Linked DNA regions of Homo sapiens. The protein of the gene in region 1 interacts with the protein of each later gene in a pairwise test. Each region holds a gene or a part of one and is shown on either strand. Other genes may lie near its edges. The genes, in order: VTI1B, SLC16A7, CD46 and PTPN5.

What was found.
Region 2: the proteins of VTI1B (region 1) and SLC16A7 interact in binary tests that used the Homo sapiens proteins (3 or more experiments, as listed by UniProt).
Region 3: the proteins of VTI1B (region 1) and CD46 interact in binary tests that used the Homo sapiens proteins (3 or more experiments, as listed by UniProt).
Region 4: the proteins of VTI1B (region 1) and PTPN5 interact in binary tests that used the Homo sapiens proteins (3 or more experiments, as listed by UniProt).

The regions. Positions count from the first base shown.
Region 1 is NC_000014.9:67,646,548-67,650,632, reverse strand, and holds the end of VTI1B (vesicle transport through interaction with t-SNAREs homolog 1B), read left to right. Parts: 3' UTR 1-2,449; coding exon of another isoform or gene 2,450-2,586; 3' UTR 2,587-3,548; downstream 3,549-4,085. Other genes in the region: ARG2 (arginase-2, mitochondrial precursor), read right to left, coding at 2,450-2,586, 3,608-3,712, 3,895-3,989. UniProt on the Homo sapiens protein: V-SNARE that mediates vesicle transport pathways through interactions with t-SNAREs on the target membrane. These interactions are proposed to mediate aspects of the specificity of vesicle trafficking and to promote fusion of the lipid bilayers.
Region 2 is NC_000012.12:59,599,024-59,606,060, forward strand, and holds part of SLC16A7 (monocarboxylate transporter 2), read left to right. Parts: intron 1-7,037. UniProt on the Homo sapiens protein: Proton-coupled monocarboxylate symporter. Catalyzes the rapid transport across the plasma membrane of monocarboxylates such as L-lactate, pyruvate and ketone bodies, acetoacetate, beta-hydroxybutyrate and acetate.
Region 3 is NC_000001.11:207,762,037-207,769,073, reverse strand, and holds part of CD46 (membrane cofactor protein isoform 3 precursor), read right to left. Parts: intron 2,062-7,037; coding exon 1,879-2,061; intron 1,468-1,878; coding exon of another isoform or gene 1,423-1,467; intron 1,296-1,422; coding exon 1,251-1,295; intron 1-1,250. UniProt on the Homo sapiens protein: Acts as a cofactor for complement factor I, a serine protease which protects autologous cells against complement-mediated injury by cleaving C3b and C4b deposited on host tissue.
Region 4 is NC_000011.10:18,732,792-18,739,828, reverse strand, and holds part of PTPN5 (tyrosine-protein phosphatase non-receptor type 5), read left to right. Parts: intron 1-1,864; coding exon 1,865-1,949; intron 1,950-6,193; coding exon 6,194-6,273; intron 6,274-6,456; coding exon 6,457-6,594; intron 6,595-7,037. UniProt on the Homo sapiens protein: May regulate the activity of several effector molecules involved in synaptic plasticity and neuronal cell survival, including MAPKs, Src family kinases and NMDA receptors.

The DNA.
Region 1 (4,085 bases):
AAGCCAAAGTAAAAACAAGAGTCCATTTTATAGTAGAAAATACCTATTTTTAGGAAGCCCCTTGCACCTCATCCTCTTGGCCATGAATTTAAGTTAAAACACTGTTGTGCTATAGTAGATTAAAAGAAACCTTTTAAGATAATGAAATAAACCATCCCTGTTCAACTAACATAACAGGCATAATTGTCAGGCGTTCTGGAAAAGGAAAAGGCTTGGTGTTGGGTGGGGGAGGTTTTCATCCTGCTTGTTGGCAAAATGTATGCCACCTCCAGTATGACTAGGAACCTTCCAGATGCCTGCCTGGAAATGAATCAAGTATGAAGGCAGAGGAAATCTGCCACTTGCACTAGCCAAACTGCATTCCCACTTTTGAACTCTAATGTGTTATCTGTATCTGTTAGAGCACCACACCATATGCCCTGAAATGTAGTTATTACTGCAAACTTCATTCTCACCCCTGCAGGCCTGAGCTCTGGAGGCAGGTTCCACATCTAACAACATCTTTTTGTCTCCCAGCAGACTGACCCAGTGTCTTGTACTTGATCAAGAGAAAATTCAGCCATATGTTAATTATTTTATCTGGACTTCAGTTACCTTCTGTTAAGGTTTGAGAACTTGTGTCAAAGTTCTCGGTAGTGTTCCTTTGGCCTGGAGCAAGTGGAAGGGAAGCTTAAACCAGAAGAACCTATCCAGACCTGCTACTATGCTCACCCCTCTAAATGCCTCACTTCTCTATAGAATTTAACTTTTTAGTTGGTTATTCTGGATGAAGGGTGATCTGAACAAGCTAGTATTCAGGAATACAAGTATCTAAGAATATTTAGGGTGGCCATAAAGTCTGGAAACACAGGCAAATGTACCTAATGGTTTATTGATATTACACTATAGTACATGATGTGCTGAATGCCATCATGTCCGTTCAGCATCTTCCCTTATTAGCAATGCATAGTTGAGTGTACAGTGCCAAACTGCAACCAACAGGTGTATTACTGTAGCATTTCCATCATTTCCTGCACATGGACCTGTGTTCCTGATTTGTCTCTGATTTCCACTGACTAAACCTGCACCTTTAGCATATCCCAGAAGTGGTCATCAAAGTTTGCACTATTAGAAATATATACATGACTTATGTTTCCAGACTATTGCCACCCTATAAATTAAGCAAACTGCTTTATGTATCTAGTTGACAGCATTATAACAGTGCAGTGGCACAATCATGGCTCACTGCAGCCTCAACCTCCCAAGTAGTTGGGACACCTGGCTAATTATTTTTTGTAGAAACGGGGTCACACTATGTTGCCCACGCTGGTCTTGAACCCCTGGGGTCAAGTAATCCTCTTGCCTTGGCCTCCCAGAGTACTGGGATTATAGGTATGAACCACTGTGCCTAGCCCCATGAGTGTCTTTTGGAGTAAAATATTGTAGCATAGGAACAAAGAGACAAGCCATGCCATATATAAGTGCTAGAGGTTATTAACCCCTGCTCTAAGTGGTGTTTTTAGGAAGCAAAGCAGAGAATTGAACCCCCAAGTTCTCTGGCCAATAACCTAAGGACCACTGGCAACATCTAAGATTGCAGATCTGAGAATTAGACCAGTACTGCCTGCCTTTTTGTACTGCCTAAGGTTCTGGCAGGCTGTGGCGCTAAGGAGACCATTTCTCAATGTGAGTTTCTATCCCAGCTAGTCAAGGGTTCTCTATAGCCCTGAACCTTTCAATCTGGGGTCTCTATCTATACCCTAGTTCCATCAGATGGTTACTGAAGCAGTATGATTTGGTAGTTCTTTAAATTTTGGAATGAAAGGTCATTTGAAGTAGCTTTAAAACCAGAAGCTTTCTGACAGAAATGGAAACTGTTTGCAAACAAGTATGAGTTTTGGAAAAGTAGCCAGTCTTGATAACGTAGAATTCATCTTAGTACTCTTTCCATCAGCCATTCTCATCTAACTGTATCCCCCTTATTAGAAATCCTTTCAGGCTCTAGTACAAGACCTACCCTACATAAAGGACCCAAGATATTGTCCAGTTTGCAGATTTCTTCAAGAGATCAGCTTTAGCTCCAAATTCACAACTCCCAATGAACCAATCTCTTAGAGTGCAAATTACAGCCTTGCACTCTTATCTTATCTTGCCTTCTTATCTTAATCTGCCTTTAGATAACTCAAAGAACTGCATCAGTTTGACAATTTATTCTTGTATTTAATTGTTTAAATATACAATTTTTTACTCATTATTACCTTAGTGTAATTTGGTAAGAGCCATGTCCAAGCATGACTCTAAAGGACTATATCCTTTTTATTAGCATGGCCATATAATTTTTAGCTACAAAAGTTTAAGCAAAAACAAACTCTGCAATGATGTGGAATAGCAGAAAAGATCCTTTGCAGGCAAGAGACTCTAGCATATTTACCTATGTAGTTAACAGGCTGCAGACCTGGTTGCTACATACCTGTATTGTGTATTTCCTCAGCAATATACATGCCTTCTCGATAGGTTAGTCCCCCGACAACAGGAGTTCCTGTGGCTGGAGCCAGTGTAGGGTCAAATGCATCAATATCAAAACTCAAATGGATTGGTCTTTGTCTCCTAAAAAGGAAGAGGATAAAATAATACTTAAAATAATACTTAACTGGTTGTCCTTGGACACTCATCCTTCTTATGGTTGCAACTCCTTGATTTTGTTGCTATTAGTCCTAGTACTTTGTTAATAAAGCTGTTAATACATTTCCAGGCTTCCTATTCTTGGAAGTTACTGAGATTGGCAATATTAACTTCCTACATACCACTTCATGATACTGCCATTTGTTCTGCATACCTCAGACAGACTAACTCCAATGTATATTTCTGCCTTACACTGGGTATTAGAACCTCTTATACTAATAACTGTCAATAGAGAGATTTCTTCACTTCTAGATGAGATTGGGCTCTCATCTAGAGACAATTTAATTAGACAATTTAAATTAGTCTAATTTAAATTGGCTTGATGTAAGTTATGGTTGCTCTTATTCTCTGAACGTAACAGCAGCTGAAGTGAACTCTAATTTTAGGTCTGCAGTTTTAACATCTTCCATTTCTAACTTCATTATAGCCCCAGTGTCCAAAGGCTGAAGCTAACAACTAAGTTTCTTAACAGCTTATGAAATGACATACTACCAGATAACAATTCTGACATTAATCACCCAGAAGTAAAGACTTGGTATTGGGAAAATGCTCTTAAAATTACCATTTGATTAGTATTCATCTGCCATCTTTCTACACTGCCAAGATTTGCTTAATATAAAACTCAGATGAAACAATCGTGAGGCTGGGAAGAATGGGACAGTTGAAACAATAAATGCTTGTCATCTCAGAAGATAAGCATTAAAGATGGAGATAAAGAAAAATTCATGAGACAGAAGATCTAGGCAATGATTTAGAGGAAACCTCCTCCCAAAAACCCCAGAGGAAGAATATGACCTGTGTTTCAAATTTTGCCTTTCTGAACTATTTAAAATTATGTGTATGTTTTTGCTTTGTATTTTAAAAGTAAAGCTGCTGTCCTCAAGAAACAGGCTAAAAGTGTGTTGCCCATTGGGGGTTTGCCCTGACATCAGTTATAGTTACTTACTTGCCAATCAGCAGATCAAATGTTCGTTCCATGACCTTCTGGATACCAAGTCGATCAATATCTCTCATGGAAAAATACTGGATATCATAGTTCTTTAAAATAAAACTGTGATGAGATATAAAGGGAGGAGTCCTTAGTTTAAAGAGCATTTTTAACAAATATGTATTTGGGGGAGAGGGTGGGTTTGTTGTAGTGACCTGCAATAGACCAAGTTAAGCATCAGCCTTTCAAATAGAACATAATTGGCTAGGACAGGCCCTAAACTTCAGCCAAATGCATCAACTTACTGTTCAGGAGGGTCCACGTCTCTCAGACCAATATACACAATACTTGCAGAAGAGATACAAGGTTTGATCCAGGAAAATCCTGGGAGTTGTGGTACCTATGAAAGGGAGAAATGGACAGGATTAATCAAGAATTCTTGTTCTCACCAAGATCATTATCATGTGCGTCCGTGGGTATGCAATCTGCTTTCTTC
Region 2 (7,037 bases), on another chromosome or scaffold:
AGCTGGGGCAAGCACCGATGCGATCTGTTTGGCTTTAACCACTGTGTCATATAGCTTCTGCCTTGCATGAAGCTAAATAAGAGCAAAGACCTTACCTGTTGTTTTCTCCATAGCCCAGTACAGTGTCTGGCATGTCATGGTTCAGAACAACTGATTATAGAAAGAAGGAAAGAGGGAGGGAAGCAGAACTAGAGGGAAGGAGGAAGAGGAGGAAATAAAAATTAGCAAGTCCAAGTGTCTCCCGCCTTCAACACTGAATCTGGCAGGAAATCCAGCATGAACTCTGCCCTGAGAACACAATAGTTGAGGCTCTTTTGAGGATTCCTTTTCCTTGTCTTGCATCTAATCATCTAGTTTATGATGCTCATTTATGCAGAATAGGAAAATATTCTCTTTGGTTTGACAAATTAGCAAAAGGTGCCCATGAAGTGCAAACATCAAAGAGTGACCTACTCAAGGTGGACCAGGAAAAAAAAAGAAGGAAGAAATTAAAAGGGCAGACCATAATGCAGGGGCACTGGATTTAAATTTTAGTTAAGCCACTGGCTGGCTTTGTCTTATGCAATGTTGTGGTAGTACTTGTATTGTTGTTCTGAACACCAAAGACGATAACAAATATAAGCTGTTTTATACTGTGCCTGATAAATAGAATGGCATGCGGCAAAGAATAATTACATTCTGTTATTGCCCTTTGTTCCCCTCCTCCCTTCAACTCATCCCAAATAAAAAGTACCCTCCTGTTTTCCACATCTTGAAGTAATCTGTGTTCATCTGAACTACTTCGTAACTTGATCTGGGCTTCTCTTAGGCTGATTCTTATATTTTACCTTGAATTACAATTATTTGGGAAGGCATCCTATCTCTCTTCCTGGGCTACATGGTCTTTGAGAGTAGATGGTATATCTGATTCATCTTGGAACCTCTGTGGAGCTGCTGCTTGGGACAGGACAGGGCAGACGAGGGGCTCTGAAGTCCAGCCTGTCTGGGTTTTGATTTTAGCTTTGCCACTTATCAACAAAGACAAGTTGCTAGACCTCTTTAAGTCTCGGTTTCTTCATGTGTAAAAATAGAATAGTAACCAATTTTGTATATTGGTTGTAAACATTAAATGAGATAATATCTGTGAAATAGCACTGTGCTGAGCACATACATAGAAATAACTCAATAACTACTTTTAGGTATTAAATATTTGGCTTTATGTTTTTTAGTTTATCATAAGCATCACTGGCTTATTTTTAACAGATTTTTGGGAACTCTGAAATGCCAAACTTGCCATTAGATGGCACAACAAAGTTGAATTGCATAATAAACCATTAAGTGGACTCCCTTTGAGAAGTCATCCTGGTTTGTCACAGGCTTTCTCAAAACTGTTTGGATCAAAGTGATTAAGAAATATCTTGGGAAACATCTGCACACTAGCTCTCAGTGAATAATGGAACTTTTTTTTTTTTTTAACTTGTGAGAAAGCTTCATTTTCTCAGTTGCTGCTATAAATGGTGAATCCAGGGGCTGAGTCTACCTATGTGAGAGATCCAGCTGTTTAAAATCATAATATGAGAGACTAGCCTAAAATGGACCATTGTCGAGAGGAATAAATAACACTTATCACACGTATTTGGTAATTAGTAAATAAGTGGAGGGTCTTTATATATCAACTGTAATCATTAAAAATGTGGGAGAAAATTAAACAAATTGGAGCTGACTATAATAAAACTAGTCCAGCTGGAGCTGGACTAACTGGGACTTGGGTGCACCATAGACAATTTCAACATATTCACAAATATCAGTGTTGATAAATGAAGCAAGTATTTTTGGAAATAATTTTTCTGACCTAATACTAAAACTCCCGCAAATGTTTTCATTAATACTCATTGAAGTCTCAAAGGACCTCATGAAAATCCTATGGGACAACTGAACGACAGCTACAAGATACTGGCCTAAAGGTACTTTCGTTAAGTTCCACAAAAATGTCTGTATGGTTCAATTATAGAGCCTGGTGATTAGTTTTATGTAATAGTTGGCATTAAAATAGCAACTTTCAATAGAAAATATTTTGTGTAAGTGGTGAACACAAATGAAATATTTGTTTAGATAAATAAAGATCCATATACAGTGTTGGTATTTTGTAGAAAGCATTTTATTATAAGCATTTGCTGTTTCTCCACCTCATAATACAATATGTATCATTATTAATTAGTCAATACCTCTAATCAGATTTCTATTGAAGCTAATATGTAAAAGAATGGTACTTTTTACAAAGCAGCTGCCCTACTAAGTAATTAACTTGAATATCTATATCTTTTTTAACTAGATTAGATAAGAATAAAAAATAAAACTACAAAGCATGCATTTGATAAGTTTCTAAGGGATATTAACATTTATCTTATTTTAAAAATGATTTTCAAAATTTCTAGGATTTGAAGTTCCATCAGTTCTTCTCAAATATGTGAAAGGCAAATTCAGTGATAAATGGCAGTCGGTGACAGTATTTTTCAACAGGTGGGATTATTGGCATTTGGGGTGGGACACTTTTTCATTGTGTAGGACTGTCTCTTTCATTGCAGAGCATTGGGTGTCTGTGACCTTTCTGAGTAAATTTGGGCTGCGATAACAAACTATAGACAGATTAGGTAGCTTATGAACAACAGAAATTTATTTCTCACAGTTCTAGAGGCTGGAAATCTGAGATCAGGGTGCTGGCATGGTCCAGGTGTTGGTGAAGGCCTCTTCTGGGTTGTAGACTGCTGGTTTCTTATATCTTCACATGGTGGGATGAGAGTGAGAGCTCTCTTTTATAAGGGTGCTAATCCCATTCATGAGAGTTCCTTCCTTATGACCTACTTAACTCCCAAAGTCCCCATGTCTTAATACCACTCCTTTGGGGATTAGGACTTCAACATGAATTTTGGAGGCACACATTAAGTCCGTAACAATGATCTATCTCTGTTTTCTATAAGTCAGTGGCTTTCCCTTAGTCATTGTAACAATCAAAAATGCCTCTCTACATTTTAATATACCTGTGGTGGAATGGTGATCCATATGGTTGAAAACTGTCAGCCAATAAGATCAAATTGAGATTGTTTAAACAATTTATTTGGGATCAGAGTACTTTCAGAGTACTTTCAAAATTATTTTGCCTTTCATTAAAGGATGAAAATAATACTCTTGTATAAAAATATTTTGTTTTGAAACAATGAGTTCTTTATTAGTAAGGCATAACAACTGTTAACTTTAATAATCAGAGCATCATTGACCTCCTAGCCTCCAAATTATTTGCTTTGGACTGTTAATAACCTTTGGCAGTATTCATCCCTAATGCTTCTTGAACTCCTGTTTTGGCTTTCATGTGCTCTTTATTTTGTTACTTCTCTCACCGCTCATTTACTGCTTCTTCTCCAGCTCGCCTTTCACCTCGTATTCAATATAAGTATGTCTTCCCCAGTTTGTGTTTTGGGCTTTTTTTTTTTTTTTTTTTTTTGAGACAGGGTTTCACTGCAACACCCAGGCTTGGGTGCAATGACATGAACTTGGCTCACTGCAACCACCACCTCCTGAGTTCAAGTGATTCTCCTGCCCCAGCCTCCTGAGTAGCTGGGACTATAGGCGCCCACCATCACGTCTGGCTAATTTTTTGTATTTTTAGTAGAAATAGGGTTTCACCATATTGGCCAGGCTGGTCTCGAACTCCTGACCTCAAGTGATCTGCCCACCTTGGCCCCCAAAAGTGCTGGAATTACAGACATGAGCCACTGAGCCTGGCCAGACTTTTCTTTAGCCTGCATTCTGTTGATTGACAAAGCTCATCTGCTCTGGACCTCCGCTTTCACCTCAGTAGGAATAACTCCCAAGCCATTTGCTGTAGTCCTGACCTTCCCTCAACTTTTAGGCATTTCCAGACATTTCTAGATGTTTGCAGGACAGCTTCTCTTTACTGTGCTTTTGATACTTCCAGTATCCTGTGGTCTCTTCCTTCCTTTTTGTCTTCTTTCTTTCTGTCACCCCCATTCTTCATATTGATATCAGCAGTATTCTAGCCTAGAAGCTTTTGAGACCACCCTTTCTCTGGACTTGTGTACATCCAAAATAATTTTTTAATTATTTATTTCTATTCTGTTGTTGCCAGAAGTTTCAGGTGCTTTTGACATACTACCTACAGTCATGTAATAGTCTCTTAGTGGGTATTCCCACCTCTGGTCTCTCACCCTACCAGTTAATTCTGTACATGGTATCAGATACTCTCATGGAAGCACACCTTTGTTAAGTAACACTCCCATCACCTAGGTCCAAGGACTGACATTTCAGTCCCTGCATGATGTAAGTCCAAACAGCTGTTCCATGTTCATCTCCCACTACCATCATACTCAACTCAAATGGAACTGTCCTCATGCCTCGTTCATTCTCATTCTACTTCCTACCGCCAAATCTTTGGCCATGCTGTTCTTTTATCTTGAAATGAATCTAACGTCCTACGATTTCTAGCTCTAACCTCACCTTCTAAGAAGTTGAGCTTAAACACCACATACAAATTTTCCTCTGACACCTCTGGATAGGTAGAATAATTTTTCTAAAATTTCAGGAACATTATGTTTATAATGTCTTATTTGACATTGTATAATAGAATGTCTTGACATTCTATTATATTTGATTTTATATAATTATTCAGTTTCTTAATATACTATAAAGTTGTAGATGTCAGGAATAATAATGTATTCATATTTATGTCATCTTTAGCATTTTGGTGGATTATAGAGTTGCAAGAAACTTGGAGGACATCTGTTTCCACTTTTATGTGTTGTTTTCATTATGTTCAATAAACCACCATCTATTATTTAAGTGTACACACTGAGGCAGACTGTTCTTTTAAAGGCAGTTCTACTTGTGACTCAAATTTTCTTGTTTCTACCTAGGGTCTTTGTTCAGCTTCCTGGGGCCACATGAAATGAATCCCTTTCTCATTTGAATGACATACTCTACCAATGTGGTGACAGCTCACATGTCTTTTGTTTTCTCTATCAATTTAACATATTCAGTTTTTCTTCCTGTTTTTTGCATGTGACCTGGTTACATTCTTTATTTAAGGCTGCTGTATTGTGGAGTAATTCAACTTTAGGAAAGTCCACAAATGCATAGAATACTTCAAGGATAACAATGGTTTTGAATGTAAATATTGGAATTGTTTTTCATGATGTAACTTGTCAATATCTCTTCAGGTGTCAGGGTGGGAAATCAAGGTATATATAGCGATCTACCTCTGGGAGAATCCCATAGTTATCTCAGGGCTGAACTTTCCTTTCTGTGCCAACAGTTTAATAAATAAATAAATGAATAAACCACTGGAGGATGATAGGAAAGCTCACTTTAACTTTTGATTGTAATTGGAAATTAGCCACTCAGTAAAATTATACTCTTTTATAGATTAATGCCCTAAGTAGTAAAACAACAAACATGTCTTGTGTGTGTGTGTGTATAATAAGTGAATTTAAGGACATTGGACCAAATAAGTGGCTATTAAGTAAAGTTATAAAGATAAGCTTTAAGTAAGAATAGCTTACATTTGTTGAACACTTCTATATTTAATACCTTACATGTTTTAACTAATTTAATCCTCAAAACCTTATGAGGAAGCATTTTTGTTATCCTCATTTTACAGATGGGCAGAGTAGAGCACAGAGGTGAAGTATTTTGCCCAAGGTTACACATCTTGTCATTGGAAGGGTCTGGATTTTAATCTGTTGAACAAAATGTACCTTTTCAATAGTATTAATTTCAAGTATTTCATGCTGCAGTAAATTTTAAGACATTCTTGGGAAAAGTCCGATAATTTTATTTTTTTTCTTTTTTGAGACGGAGTCTCACTCTGTCACCCAGGCTGGAGTGCAGTGGCACAATCTTGGCTCACTGCCAGCTCTGCGTCCTAGGTTCATGCCATTCTCTCGCCTCAGCCTCCCAAGTAGCTGGGACTACAGGCGCCCGCCACCACGCCCGGCTAATTTTTGTTTTTGTATTCTTAGTAGAGATGGGGTTTCACCATGTTAGCCAGGATGGTATTGATCTCCTGACCTTTTGATCCTCCCACCTCAGCCTCCCAAAGTGCTGGGATTACAGGCAAAGTCTGATAAATATTTTTTCAAACAGAGACTAGTAGTCAGGTATAATGAGTTTGGGTCTGTTACAACATAAAGTCAACAGGAATGATAAGGCTTCCTTACTATTTGAAGGAGTTACCTGGAACCAAGCTAGAAAGCTTAGAGAAAGTAACAACCCCTTGTGGATTCAAGGAGGCTGGAGAACCAGTAGGGACCGAAGGAACAGTAAGTCCAGGATGTCATTCCTATAACTCAGTTTGCAAGGTGGTAGGGATAGAATACGTGGGAGGTGGCAAGACTCCCATGGAAGCCCTGTGCTGTGGGTATCAGTGAGTGCATGAACAGAGTAGGGTCTGGAGAATTCTCATAGATGGGTATATATCAAATTTACAGTGAAGAGGGATTTTGAATAAAGCCTCTGACATATTTTAAGGCATAGAATGCAGTACTTTAACAACTATTTATTCCCCTGCTGTGTTCCAGACACTGTTTTGGATGTTAGAGAGATGGCTGTAAATAGAACAGGTAAGTCCTTTTTAGTCTTGAGTTACACAGATATCAAATATATTCTCAAAGCAAGGTTAAGCAATTTATGTCCTTGAGCCAATTTTTTTTGTAGACCTCTCATGCCATCTTCTCTATGTAGCCAGTCTTATTCTGTAGTTATCTCTTTATTCTCTTTTCCTTTTTTCTCAATCTGTGTCACATGTCAGATCAGAGACTTTGAAGACAGATAGATATAGCCCAATGAAATTTCGACTAAGCTACTTCTAAGCTGTTTGACCACAGTCAAGGTATGTAACTTTTAGAGCCCCAGTTTTCTCATTTTGGAAATAATAAAATTTATTTTATGAGTTGTTGTTGGAGAAATAATGTAGGTAGTCAATAAATGATAATCATCATCATGTCATTTTTATCTCTACCTTTATTTTTGGCATATATTGAGGCAGA
Region 3 (7,037 bases), on another chromosome or scaffold:
CTTAGCCAGGCTGGTCTTGAACTTCTGACCTCGTGATCCACCCACCTCGGCCTCCCAAAGTTCTGGTATTACAGGTGTGAGCTACCCCACCCAGCCTATAAGAAGGTATCTTAATTACTATGTTAACATGCATAATTCTCTTCGATCCTTTAAAATATTAGGGAGATAGGAAATATATAACCAAATTAGAAGCCAGTGATTGAGATTTCAGTTCAACACTCACATTATACTAAAGGGAAACTGAAGACCACAGAAATGATGTTAACTAAGCACAGTCTGCCCAGACTGAAGTGCTACCCACAATTACTATTGTCTCTTGCTTCTGCTGGAAGCAAAGTGAAACCAGAGATGGTAGTGCTGAAATCAGGATAATTCCTTCCATCATATCAAAATAATCTCTCCAGTCATAAGCACAGTGGTTGACCAGGAGTCCCTGCAAAAGTCTTCTATTTTATTTCAGTAAATAAGGACTTTTCCTGCCTTTCAGTTGCTATAAAATTGAGTTGCTATTGCCAGATAAAACTGCCCACTAAAGAGAAAAAAAATAAATAACATTATGAGGTGTGGAAGAGGGGTGGGTAGGGAAGAGGCAGAAATACAGATCTTGTTCTGAGGACAGCAGAAATTTCCCTGTTTAAATGTTTTACATCAGAAGACTCAAACTAGTTGCATTCCAGGAAATGAAAGAGTCCTGCAATAGGAACAAACTCAGTAAAGGTGTCAACAGATCACTTCTGAAAAGAATAAAATAGCAAAGTTGATGACACAAAACATACATATTAACAAACAAACATATTAACATATTAACACACACACATACTAACAAACATACATGAACCTTCCCCTTCCCTAACATTAATTTAAGTGTAGGATAAGTCATATTGGCTAGCTCTAAGAGCTTTCTCTACACCAGGCACTGTGCTAAGTGCTTTAAATGCATCCCACTTATACCTTACTAATACCCAATAAGGAAGGTACTAAATCAATTTCTCTATATATAATGTAAACATATATATATAAACACATTCAAAATTTATACAACTTTCCCAAGGTCATATTCCTGTTTATATCAGATTATGGCAAATAATTTTAGAATCACTATGTATAACAACTAAAATGGCTATACAAATGTCCTCCCTCCTTTCATTACTAAAAATAAGTGAACATCACCAGAAATTTGAAGGATTTTATAAAAAATCACCAGGAATTTAAAGGATTTTTGAAAAACTATAAGCAGGAAATTACTAAACCTGAGGCACTGGACGCTGGAGATTTTGTAGTGGAAGAAGTCGACACTGGAAAACAAAATAATAATGTAGATTGGACCAAACACTTGGGAGTTATTGCTGGCAATTTCTCCAGGAATTCCTTATATCTTGTAACATATAAGGAAGAAGACATATAAGGAAGAAGCTACTAAACCTGAATGACTCAAAGCTGGAGGTTTTGTACTAGATGGAGGCAGCACTAGGAAACAAAATAATGTTAGAAGATCAACCACTTGGGAGTTATTGCTCTCATTTCATTTATATGAATTATGCCATTGTTGACTTACTTAGATAAAAATGCCCATGTTTCAATTCCAAAAAGTTGTTGTAATTCACTTTTTATACATAAAAATATTAAAAGCATATACCCATGCAATGTACATAACGTGCTAAGAACCCTGGAAAAGCACAAAAAATCACAACAGCAGAATTTTATGTGAATTTCGTGTCATTCATCTGGCATAGAAATGAATACAAGACAGAGTTAAATACTAAAATTGTTTCTTTTCAGTTATTTTGTATGACTGATAGTTAATATCAAAGAAATAAAGTCTAAAATGAACAGCAACAACAATAACAAACCAAGACAGAAAAAAGATAACCTTTGTACCTTTAAGACACTTTGGAACTGGGGGATCCCAAGTACTGTTACTGTCACAGACAATTGTGTCGCTGCCATCGAGGTAAAAACCCTTATCGCATTCAAACATAACTGTTGCTTTGTAGTAAAATTTTTTTCCAAATCCTGATATCTGTTTTCCATTTTCGACTACTGGAAATCGACATTTGACCACTGGAAAATTAGAGAAACCTCAGAATTAATGGATATCTGCTTTAGCAGAAAAAGTAGTACAAAGTAGTAATTTCCAGTGTGAACAGAGACAAGGAATGGAATGCAAGATGTTAAAAACATTTTTTAAAAGACTTTAAATGTTAACTAATATATTCTCCTTCATACAGAATTCTAGGGTGTTTTATTTTTCTTTCAGCACTAACAGAGATAACCATATTGTAACCACATTTTCTTAAGAAAACTTGGCTGGCTGTCATTCTTACTTGTCCCTGCCCTCCTAAATGTAATACGGGTTTTTGTTGTTTTCCCCACTCACTGGCTGCTTTTTAAAATTTTGTTTGGTAGTTTTTACCAAACTACTGCAGGGGGGTGGTGGTGGTGGTAAATTTTAATAATTTATTCATCCTGCTGAAGGTTCACTGAATCTCCTGGATCTGAGGTTGTTTTGGATCTAATTTGGATAATTTTTGGCCAATATTTTTTCAAATAATATTTTACACCATTCTCTCTCCTGTCTTTCTGAAACTCCAATTACATGTATGTTTCACTGCTTGATACTCTCCCACAGGTCTGTAAGCCTCTCTCTTTCTTTAGTCAACATTTCTTCTTAAATAAGGTTCAATTTCTATTCACCTGTCTTCAGGTTCACTGACCTTTTGTTGTGTCTAATTGTACCTAATGTTATTTGTAAAGGTTGGTTTATTGGATATAATTTACATACAGTAAAATTCACCATTTCAAGTGTACAGCTGTATCAGTTTTGACAAATGCAAATAATCATGTAACTACCACCATAGTAAAGATACAGAAAAGTTCCATTACTCTCCAGAATTTCCTCATGCTCTTTTGTGAGTTACCCCTCTTCCCCCTCATCCCCACTTCCACAACCAGCTAACCATTGATCTGCTTTTATCCCTATAGTGGGACTTTTTCAGAATGTCACATAAATGAAATTACAGTCTTCTTAGTATGGCTTATTTCACTAAGCATGATGCTTTCAAAATTCATTTGTGTTGCTGCATGAATCAGTTCATTCCTTTTTATTGCTGAGTACGAGTCCATCTTTTAGAGGTAGCACAGGTGGTTCATTCATTCACCAACTCAAGAACATGTGGCGATTTGCAGTTTGGGGTGATTATGAATAAGGCTGCTGTGAACATCCTCATATAAGTTTCTGTGTGAAAATGTTTTCAGTTTATTTGGGTTGCCGAGTTGTATGATAAGAGTATGTTTAACTTTATAAGAAATGCCAAAAATGTCCCAAAGTGGTCATTGCACTTTGATTCTCACCATCAGTATATGAGAGTTTCATCTGCTCCATATCCTTGTCAATACCTGGTATTGTCAGTTTGGGGTGTGTGTGTTTACATTTCGGCCTTTCCAATAGGTATTTAGTGGCATCTCATTGTGAGTAGAGACAGTTTTTATTTCTTCTTTTCCAACATGTGTGCCTAATAGCTTTCTCTTGCCTTACTGTACTGGGTGGGATCTCCAATATAATGCTGAATGGAGTGGTAAGAGTGGACATCCTCACTGTTTTCCTTCCAGAATTAGGTCTTTATTAATTAGACAGAAATGTAAGTAAGGTTTTTTTAACCACTAAGTACAATGTTACTTTTTACCACTAAGTATAATTTTTTTGAACCATGAAGTGTAATGTTAGCTGTGAGATTTTTGTAGATGTCTGTTATCAGGGTAAGATAGATAGTACCCTTCTGTTCCTAGTTTGCTGAGAAGTTTTATCATGAAAAAATAAGATGATGAATTCTGTCAAACATTTTCTTTGTTTTTTGCATCTAATAAGATAACCACATGATTTTTTTTCTCCTTAATAGTCTACTGATGTGGCAAATTACACTGATTAATTTTTGCATTTGAACTAATCTTGCATTCATAGGGTAAATCCTACTTGGTCATGATTTACTTTTCTTTTTATGTATCACAGGATTTGGTTTGCTAATATTTTGTTGAAGATTTTTGGTCCTGTGTTCATCAAGGATATTATTTGTAATTTTCTTATAATGTTTTTGTTTTCTGGTTTTCGTATAAGGACAATGCTATCATCATAAAATGGGATGAGAAGTGTTCCCTCCTCTTGCACTTTCTTGAAACGCTTGTGTAGAATTGCTGTGATTTATTCCTTAGATGGTTGGTAGAACTCCCCAGTGAAGCCATCTGGACCTTCAGTAGGTTATTAACTACAAATTTTATTTCTTTGGTAGATATAGGAGTATTCAGGTTATCCATATCTTCAAGTGAGTTTTGACATTTTGTATCTTTCAAGGAATCTGTCCATTTCAGTTGTCAAATTTGTAGGCATAAAGTTGTTTATAATATTCCCTTGTCATCCTTTAAATGTCTGTAGGATATTTAGTGATATTCTCTTTTTCATTCTTTTGTTTGTCTGTTGAATAATTTTGTAAAGTAATCAAGTAAAGTTTACATCACTGATATTAAAGAATGACCATATGCACAAAAGAATATAAAGCTTTTTGGCTAAGGGATGGGGGGAAGTCAGAAAAAGGATGAGAAACACATACGGGGTGGACGTGAGGAAGGAAAGTGAAAGGTGTAGGCACCCCCACCTCACTTCCTGAGGCAGGGCCGTCAAGGACTCTCAAGATCGAGCGGCCATTAATTACATGGATTCAGATTTCTTTCATTCTAGACTTAAATTTAACCTTAGGTTTTGGCTCCAGCACCAATTTAACAGAGCAACGTAGGCATTTCCAATCCAGCAGCACACGCTGTTTCCAAGCGCATGTGACTGGCGCACCGCAGCTCCGTGCACACCCCAGGAGCTCAGTCCGTGCCCAGAGCAGGTGCCTGTGCTGTGGAACCTGACAGGAAGCCTCCCAGAACACCGCCTATCACAAGGCGCCACCTGAGGGGATCTGAGGTCTCTAAAGATCAACTGGTGCCTGTGATTTCCAAAGATTTAACCTTAGCCTTCAATGACATTTACATATAAATTGTCAAATAAAACCCTCCATAATTTACACTTAAGTCTAGGAAGACATGGCACAAATGTTCCAATGACAAAAAAAAAAAAAAAAAGTGTAGCAGCTGTGTGTGTTTTCCCCACTTTGACCAAGCTCTCACTGTAACACAGGGCATAAATGAGAAGGGTTGCACACAAATTTAAAGTATACAAAAAAAAAAAACCAAAAAATCATACGTTAACGCTGTTGACTTGTTAACAATGCAAGGAAACTCACTGGAAAATAAAATCCCTTATTTGAACCTTAAAAGAATGAAATGTACCAACTAAACTGTGTAGGCTCTAATGTAGCAGCACAGAATGTTTCCAGAAAAAAAATACATTGAAAAAAAATAAAAAATATTCAGAGATAAAACTAAAAAGATTAAAATATATATATCTTAAGAAAACTTATTGCTCAAAACATATGAAACTTAATTCTAAGAAATTCACCTACCTAAATTTAAACAAGATTGCTGCAGTTGCAGCTCGCCGTCTCCGAGAGACACGAAAAGTGATGAGGGGCGCAGGGCTGTGGGGATGTCAAGACTGGCCCAAGGTCAAAAAGCCCTTGAGGAGAGCCCTAGCTCCCACTGAGACCAGCCTCTGGCCTGCCCTCTGCAGACGGGAAGGAAGGGGATGGGTCTGGGGCTGCAGACCCTGCTGGAATTAGCAGAGGAGCCAGCAAGGCTGGGGGGCTATAGGCTGGCCAGTCTCCCTTAGCTGGATCCCGTACTCCACGCCTGGCCAGCACTCCGGGACGCCTGGCTCAGGTCTCCATCAGGATCTCCACTACGTGTTCCTACTTGCCCAGGTCAGAATGCAATTGCAGCTGGAGGTGGGAGGCCGGACGGCAGCAGGCCCAAGCCTCTGAATGCTTTGCAGGGCCACCTCCCATCGTGTGGGTCAGCACCGTGTGTCCAGGTCATCATAGGAACTGACCACATCTGAGGCCAGTTCTTCCATGCAAACTGGGGTTTTTGGTCTTCAGTATTTCAAATATCTCATCTAGCTACTTCTGAACGCCTCCTCTATTTTCCCCAGGGCTGTCCGTCTCCCAGATGCTGCTCTTCAGGGCTCCTGGCGCCAGTGCTGAGGTGACAGAGCAAAGGTCTGAAAACTGGCCCCTTCACGCAGCAGTGTCCAAAGCGGGGGGCATGGCACACCCCCTCTGGCTTCCACATGGCGGGCACAGGCCACAGGCACAGGATCTCTGCAGAAACCAGGCAGTGGAACAACGCCAACCCCACACTCTCGGGTGCCTGTGTGTGCCACGTCTCATCCTGGGCCATCTCCTCTTGGATCTGCCAGGCGTGTTGGCGATGAGGACCCTGCGGCAGTGGTTGGGCTCCACCAGCAAGTGGTAAAGCTGGAACTTCTAAAAGGACAAGTCCGGGAGTGACTGCCCCTGCCGGCTGCAGGAGGGCAGGGTCTTCAAGCTGGCTGGGGTGCCGCGCCTGGCCACCACTTCTTTCATTCTCAGTATTGGTTAATTTGCGTCTTTTTTTGTCAGTCTGGCTACAGGTTTACACACTTTATTGATCTCCAAGTAGCAACTGTTGGTTTCACTGATTTCCTCTATTTTTTTTTCTTTTCTCAATTTCATTGATTTTGGCTCTATTTTTATCATTTCCTTACATCTGCTAGTTTGGGATTTAACTTGCTCTTTTTTAGTTTCTTAAGGTGGAAAATTAGATCATTGATTTGAGACTTTTCTTTTTTTCTAACACAAGTATATTATGCTATACATTCCCCTGTAAGCAATGCTTTAGCTGCATCCTACATATTTGGATATTTTGAGATGTTGTGTTTTTATTCAATTCAAAACACTTTCTAATCTCCCTGCTGACTACTTCTTTTATGCATGGGTTATTTAGAAGTGTCCTGTACACTTTCCAATTCTTTGGGGATTGGCTTTGTTATTGATTTCTGCTTTCATTCTATTGTGATAATGCATGTTGAATGATTTCAATTTTCTGAAGTTTGTTAAAAGTTG
Region 4 (7,037 bases), on another chromosome or scaffold:
GGAAGGAAGGGGCTGAGGCTCCAAAGCTCCATTCCTCAACCAAATTCACCAAACAGGTAACTCCTCACTTCTGTGAGCAGGAAAAGGCAAGAGGCCAAGAGTATCTGGGGTGAGTTCCTCCTGGTAGAAGCCACAGGGGTACAGAAGCAGGTGCCTCCTCCCTCATAGCTCCCTTCCTTTGGCCTCCGCCCTGGGCCTGTCTGGACCGGGTAGCTCTCCCCTGTGAGAAGACCTCCATCATCATCTGATCTGCTGCTCCAAGTTCTCCAGAACTTGGTACCACCTGCATACACCATCAGCACCCCTTACCTCGTGTGGCCCCAGCCTCCTTTTCCAGCCTTATGCCCCATGCCCCACCCCTGCAGGGACTGTCCACTTCAAACTGGGCCAGTCTCGTCCGTGCCTTTCTCCTCCTGTGCCTTTGCTCACATCATCACTCACTCCAGATGCCTCTAGAAAGCCTTCTTTAACCACCCCAGCCTCAGCTCCTTCTCTGAGCTCCCACTGCCATCATCTCCCCTTCGAGAAAGAATCACATCCTCTACCTCATTTCCTGTCCGGTGGGTCTTTGTTGAGGAAGGAGCGTGGCCTGAGCACCCACTCTGGGGGCAGTTTTGCACGTGTTGTATTTTTATTTTGATTTTCACAATCCTGGAAAGTGTGATGATCCTCATTTTACAAAGCCCATACTTAGTGTGTCCAAAAACAATGAACAGTGTGAAGTTAGGTGCAGTCAGGGGCTAAGCTGGTGGACAGACTGGAAGGAAATGCAGAGGCAAGAGGCATGGAGAGTCATCCCGGAAGATGTCAGGAGGAGACAGACTCATAGGTGAACTTTTTTTTTTTTTTTTTTTTTGAGACAGGGTTTCACTCTTGTTGCCCAGGCTGGAGTGCAGTGGTGCGATCTTGTCTCACTGCAACCTCCGCCTTCCAGTTCCAAGCGATTCTCCTGCCTCAGCCTCCCTAGTGGCTGGGATTACAGGGGCCCGCCACCAGGTCCAGCTAATTTTTGTATTCTTATTAGAGATGGGGTTTCAACATGTTGGCCAGGGTGGTCTCAAACTCCTGACTTTGTGATCCGCCTGCCTCGGCCTCCCAAAGTGCTGAGATTACAGGCGTGAGCCACCGCGCCCGGGCAGAGGTGAACTTTAAAGGGTGGGAACAACTTGGAGAGATGGGGGTAGGGGAGACCAGCGCCCTCAGGAGGCAGAACGTCACAAGCTCAGACTCAGAGGCAGGACTGAGAACAGCAGATTAACAACAGGGGAGAAACAGGCCTAACTGGAAGTAAAGAGAGGCCAGATTCAAGAAGCCCTCACATGCCAGGAGAGAAGTTCAGACTCAGAGCTCTGGACACAGACAGTGGTTGGGAGGTGCAGATATTCCTGGGATCTCAGAAAGAGGCTTCTCTCCTTCTGGAGAATCAGGGAAGGCTTCTCAGAGGAGGCGGGACATGAGATGAGGATGGGGTGTGTGTTACCACAGAGCAAGCAGCACGAACCTAGGTCCCGAGATAGGGATGCCCAGGGAGGAATGCTGCCCAGGGAGCATGGAAGAAGGCAGCCATTGGCCAGGTCACTTTTTGTCTTTTTCTTCATTCATCAGCTATTTATTGACTGTCTATATATGGCAGGCTGGCTCTCCATAAACAATAGTCATTATCATATTTATTACACACTCAGCATGTGCCAGGCACTGTTCTGAATGCGTCGTGAGCACTAACTCTCTTAATAGTAAATGTTTGTTGAATGAATGCGTGCACTCAAGCCAGCCCCTGGGCTAGGAGTTGGGGGCACAGCAGCCCCTGGATTCAAACATCTGTGAGGGCCCATAGCTGCTCACACCCCGTGTCCTCCTTCCACAGGAAATCCCCATGAACTTTGTGGATCCGAAAGAGTACGACATCCCTGGGCTGGTGCGGAAGAACCGGTACAAAACCATACTTCCCAGTGAGTACTCACTGTCCCAGAGGGATGGGGGCAGGCTCAGCTTCACCTGGGGATCCCCTCACCCTGAGGAGGACCCTCAGCTGGGCCTCTAGGGGTGACAGGACTGGAGGAGGTGGGACAGAGGGCTGGGGGTTGCTGGCTGAAGGGAAGCGCTGCCCTGGTGAGGCCAGAGGCGAGTACATTTCCTCGCACAGCACTCTCTGGTCCTTTGCCCTGCCTGGCCACATGTTGTGCTGGACCCTCTAGAAACCCAAAGAGAAAGGGTGGTAATGACAGCAGTTCCTAGCCACACTGTGGTAACCGAAACTCTTTTCAGAGTGGGCAGATTTTAAGGAAAGGAAGTTAAGGCTTAGAGAGGTTAAGTGGCTCACCTGCAGTCCCACAGCTAGGAAGTGCAGAGCTGAATTTCAGACCTGGGCCTCTGTGATCCCAGAGTCAGGCTCTCTGTCTACACTGTGTGGAGTGTGGTCGAATTGTAAGCCCTCTAACAGGGACATCCACTCCCACAGGCAAATGAGTTGTCTCTGTCAGGGAGTGAGCTCCCCATTACTCAGTATATTCAAGTGAGGCGGCACGAGCAGTCCCCTAGAAGGTCTGAAAGGGGTTTTCCTCCTTTGGGGGCAGTTAGACCAGGTGACCTGATGCTCCTCTTTCAGCCCTGGGGTATCATTTTCAGATAACTTTTATCAAGCCTCGATGAGCCTGCCACCCTCGCCAAGTTCTGACCCCAGTCCCCAGGGCTAGCTTGGGCGTTGACTTGTTGAAAGTGAATCCCCATAAACCTACTCCATTCAGTTTGTGGAGTAGCGAGGCTTTTAAAAAGCAGTTTTGCCATCAGCATCTCCAACAACATGTAAGATGTCATGACTTATTTTTAACTTTTAAAATATCGACTTGTAGTTGCTATGGTTACACAGTCTCTAGGTAGTTCCGGTTAAACAAAGAGCCATTTAAGGCCAGGATGCATTATTCAGGGATGCTCACCTCTTCCCTCGTCTTGCCCTCCCCGATCCCAGCCCTACCTGGAGGGAGGGACTCGAGTATCCTAGAACCTTGGACTTTGCTGGCTGCTCAGAATGGCCACTGGGGGAAGGTGGGAGCAGACTAGGATTCCGTGCAGATGCAGTCCCCGCTGCATTCCAAGAGGCTTGAGCTGCCTCCAACCATGCCCTGAGCCTCCAGGCCCCCGAGCCCAATAAAGAATCTTGTCTGTGTCCAGCAAGAATGGAGCCTGTGCCCTCAGAGACTGGGTTGGGGGGTGCAGAGGGCAGGTGAGGCTGAGCAGAGGCTGCCTCTGAGATCCAGGACGCGCTGAGGTTTGTTCTCTCATTCACTGGGCACACATTTCCTCGGCTCCTGCCCCAGGGGCTGAGGATTTAGACATAAATAGGACACAGACTCTGTGCACAAGGAGCTTCCAGCCTAGCGGGGGAGAGAGGTCCATGCACAGTTACAGTCAGAGTGAACAGTAACCCACAGGCAGCATTGAGAACAAGATGCTGGGAGCAATTTCTGTCCCCTTCTCCGCCGTGTCCCAAGCATCAAAGCAGTGCTGCCTGGCACATGGTAGACATTCTGCACCTATTTGGACTGTTTTAATTTTTGTAGAGATGGAGGTCTTGCTCTGTTGACCAGGCTGGTCTCAAACTTCTGGCCTCAAGCTGTCCTCGCCTGCTTCGGCCTCCCAAAGTGCTGGGATTATAGGCATGAGCCACCATGCCGGGGTCTGCACCTATTTGAATGAATGAATGAATAATATCTCTCAAATCTACATCCTCTTCTCCAGCCTCACTGCCAAATGATGTTTTTGAGGTTAGGGCTTTCATGTTGTCCAATTCCAGGGGACACAATTTACATAGACTACATTGACATAAGTGCCCCCTGGAGCCGTGCCAGGCTGGACAGCCCTGTGATCCTTGACACTTCTTACTTGGATCATTGCAGTAAACCTCTAACTGGTCTTCTGGCTTCCACACTCTCCTCTCCATCTTCTACCATTGTCACCAAAATGAGGCAAAACAAATCTAATTGTGTCATTCTCTTCCTTAAATGCCATCATTGTTGTCACCCTCGTAATCCTCAGGTTTAAGTCCAGCTTTTTTTTTTTTTTTGGGGGAGACAGAGTCTCACTCTGCTGCCCAGGCTGGAGTGCAGTGGCACAGTCTCGGCTCACTGCAACCTCTGCCTCCTGGGTTCAAGCAATTTCTGGCTAATTTTTGTATTTTTAGTAGGAACAGGGTTTGACTGTGTTGGCCAGGCTGCTCTCCAACTCCTGACCTCAAGTGATCCGCCCACCTCAGCCTCCCAAAGTGCTGGGCTTACAGGCTTGAGCCACCACGCCCGGCCTAAATCCAGCTTTCTAAGCCTGGTTTATAAGACCCTTTGTCGCCTGGTTCCTCTCCAGCCTCACCACTCACCACTCCCTACCCTGCACTGTGCACGTGAATCTGACAGAACAGCATTGCCTGCAGACAAGGAGAAGGGAGACGGCCCATACAGAGCTTCCTGCCCCTCTCTGCTGCAGGTCCCCCAAAAGCCCCCCTCCCGTTTACCCTGTCTCCTCTCCATCCCTGCCACCCTCTACACCCCCTCTTCACAAGAACTGCCCCAAATCACCTGCCAAAACCTTAGACATTGGGGTTGGGCTAAAGAGGCGAAGCTTGTGCCCTTTACCTCCCCAATTTCTCCTACTGGGTTTAGGATCCTTCTTTTTATCCTTTAACTTGTGGAACTTGTAATAATGTCAGGAATAACAGCAACTGATACTTCGTGTTGGTCCTAGTTACTGGCATAAGGACTCTAGTTGTTAAAGTTAACTCCTTTACAAGATAAGCAAGGTCATTGTGGAATGACCATCCCCAGATTACAGATAAGGCACAGGGAGATAAAGTAAATTGTCCATGTTGACACTGCTAGTAAGTCAGAATCAGGATTTGAACCTAGCCTCTCTGGCTCAGCGGTGTAGACTCTTAATGACTCCCCTATACTGCCTGTGAGAGCCTCCTAATGTGCACACTGGAAGTGCCTTTAGTCCAGTCCTCCCTATTATAGGAAAGAAACTGAGGCCTGGACAAGTGAGCTGATGACAAAACTAAACCAGAACCCAGGAATCTGGGGCCCCAGCCAGCTTCCCCCTTACCCCATACAACCTCAGTCTTGGCCTCTGCAGGCTGACAGAATAGTCAATGCAGAGAGGCTGTAGCTGGAACAAAACAAAATCTACTCCAGGAAGAAGAGCAGAGTGGGGGCTGGGCACAGTGGCTCATGCCTATAACCCCAGCACATTGAGAGGCCGAGGTAGGAGGATCACTTGAGCCAGGAATTGGAGACCAGCCTAGTCAACATAGCAAGACCTCATCTCTACCAAAATAAACAAATAAAAATAAAAAAATAAATTTAGCCAGGTGCAGTGGCTCATGGCTTAGTCCTGCTTACTCAGGGGGTTGAAGCAGGAGGATCACTTGGGCCCAGGAGTTTGAGGCGGCAGCGAGCCATAATCGTGCCACTGCACTCCAGCTGAGTGACAGAGACCCTTTTACTATGGGATTTGACATGTGAATAAATTGAAAGGAAAAAAAACCTTTTTGCATATGTGGACATGAGGCTGAGACCCCACAGTCTTAATCCAGATAGAGGAGACTATCGTTTTCATGTTAATAGCCTCCGTCAACTTTCTACTCCCGAATCTTAACAGCCCTTTATATTTATAAAGCACTTTACAGTTTACACAGAACTTTCACATCTCTTTTCTCATTCATCTTCCCAACAGCCCAAGCAAGTAGGCATCTTTGCCTCCATTTGACAGATAGGAAAACTAAGGCTTAGAAAGGCCATGTGTTTTACAAGCCTACACAGCAAGTCAATGACAGTGTGTACTCAAGCTAGCTGTCTCTTGCTGAACAAGATCTGTACAGGAATTTCCCTAGGTAATTCCATTGTTGACTTAGCTGTCTCCTCTCCAGAAGCTAAGATGCAGTGAGTATAGGGCAACTTAAGAGGCACAGGCTAAGGATAGAGACAGAGGTAGAGACCCGGGGACCCCCCTCTCTCTCCACCCTCCTCCTCATCCTGAGTCCTCACCTACAAAATGAACCATGAATGGGTCAATGTTTTGCTGCTGGGCAAGGGAAGGAAGAACTGCTAATGTCGCAGAAGAAGTGTGGGTATGCTGGAATAGGCCAGAGCAAGTGGGTCCTGCACCAGAGGGCCCAGTTTCCAGCCTTACTTGTCTCCCACCACCCCAGACCCTCACAGCAGAGTGTGTCTGACCTCACCAGACCCTGACGACCCTCTGAGTTCCTACATCAATGCCAACTACATCCGGGTACGTATTCCCACCCTGACGGCCTCTTGCTCAAGGGGAGGCCTGAGTCGATGGGATCCATCCTCCAGCCTTGTCCCTACACCAGTCTGGCTCCTGCCAGCTCCTGTGAAGAGCCTGAGTGTGGGGATGGGGTCCTGGGAGCACTGCCTCTGACCCTGACAGCCTGGACTTGGCTGGCCGCAGGGCTATGGTGGGGAGGAGAAGGTGTACATCGCCACTCAGGGACCCATCGTCAGCACGGTCGCCGACTTCTGGCGCATGGTGTGGCAGGAGCACACGCCCATCATTGTCATGATCACCAACATCGAGGAGATGAACGAGGTAGGGACCCCCGTCCCCATTCTAAGTGTCTGCTACATTGCGCCCTACACTAAGTATCTTGTTCTCAAATTAATCTTTATGACAATCTCAAGAGGTCGGCGGTGTTCACTCCGCTGCCAAGATGAGGAGATGTGAGGCTCGGTAAGGTTAAGTCATTTGCCCCGGGCTTCACAGATAGAGGCATGCCTGGAGGTGGCCTCTCCACTTCCAGTGCCCGTGACCTTAAACACAGCACTCTGCTGCCTCCCAGCCTGCCAGGACAGATGTTGGCTACTCCTGTACCCATAAGGGCCCATTTAACCGAATCTCCATAAAAGTCCTTCAGATGGGTAGCACTTCTGTTTTCCAGAGGAAGAAACTGAGACTCAGGAAACGGAAGTAGCTTATAGAGTTTGCAGCTGAGATTTGAACCCAACACTCTGTAGCAGCAACCCTGTTGCCCT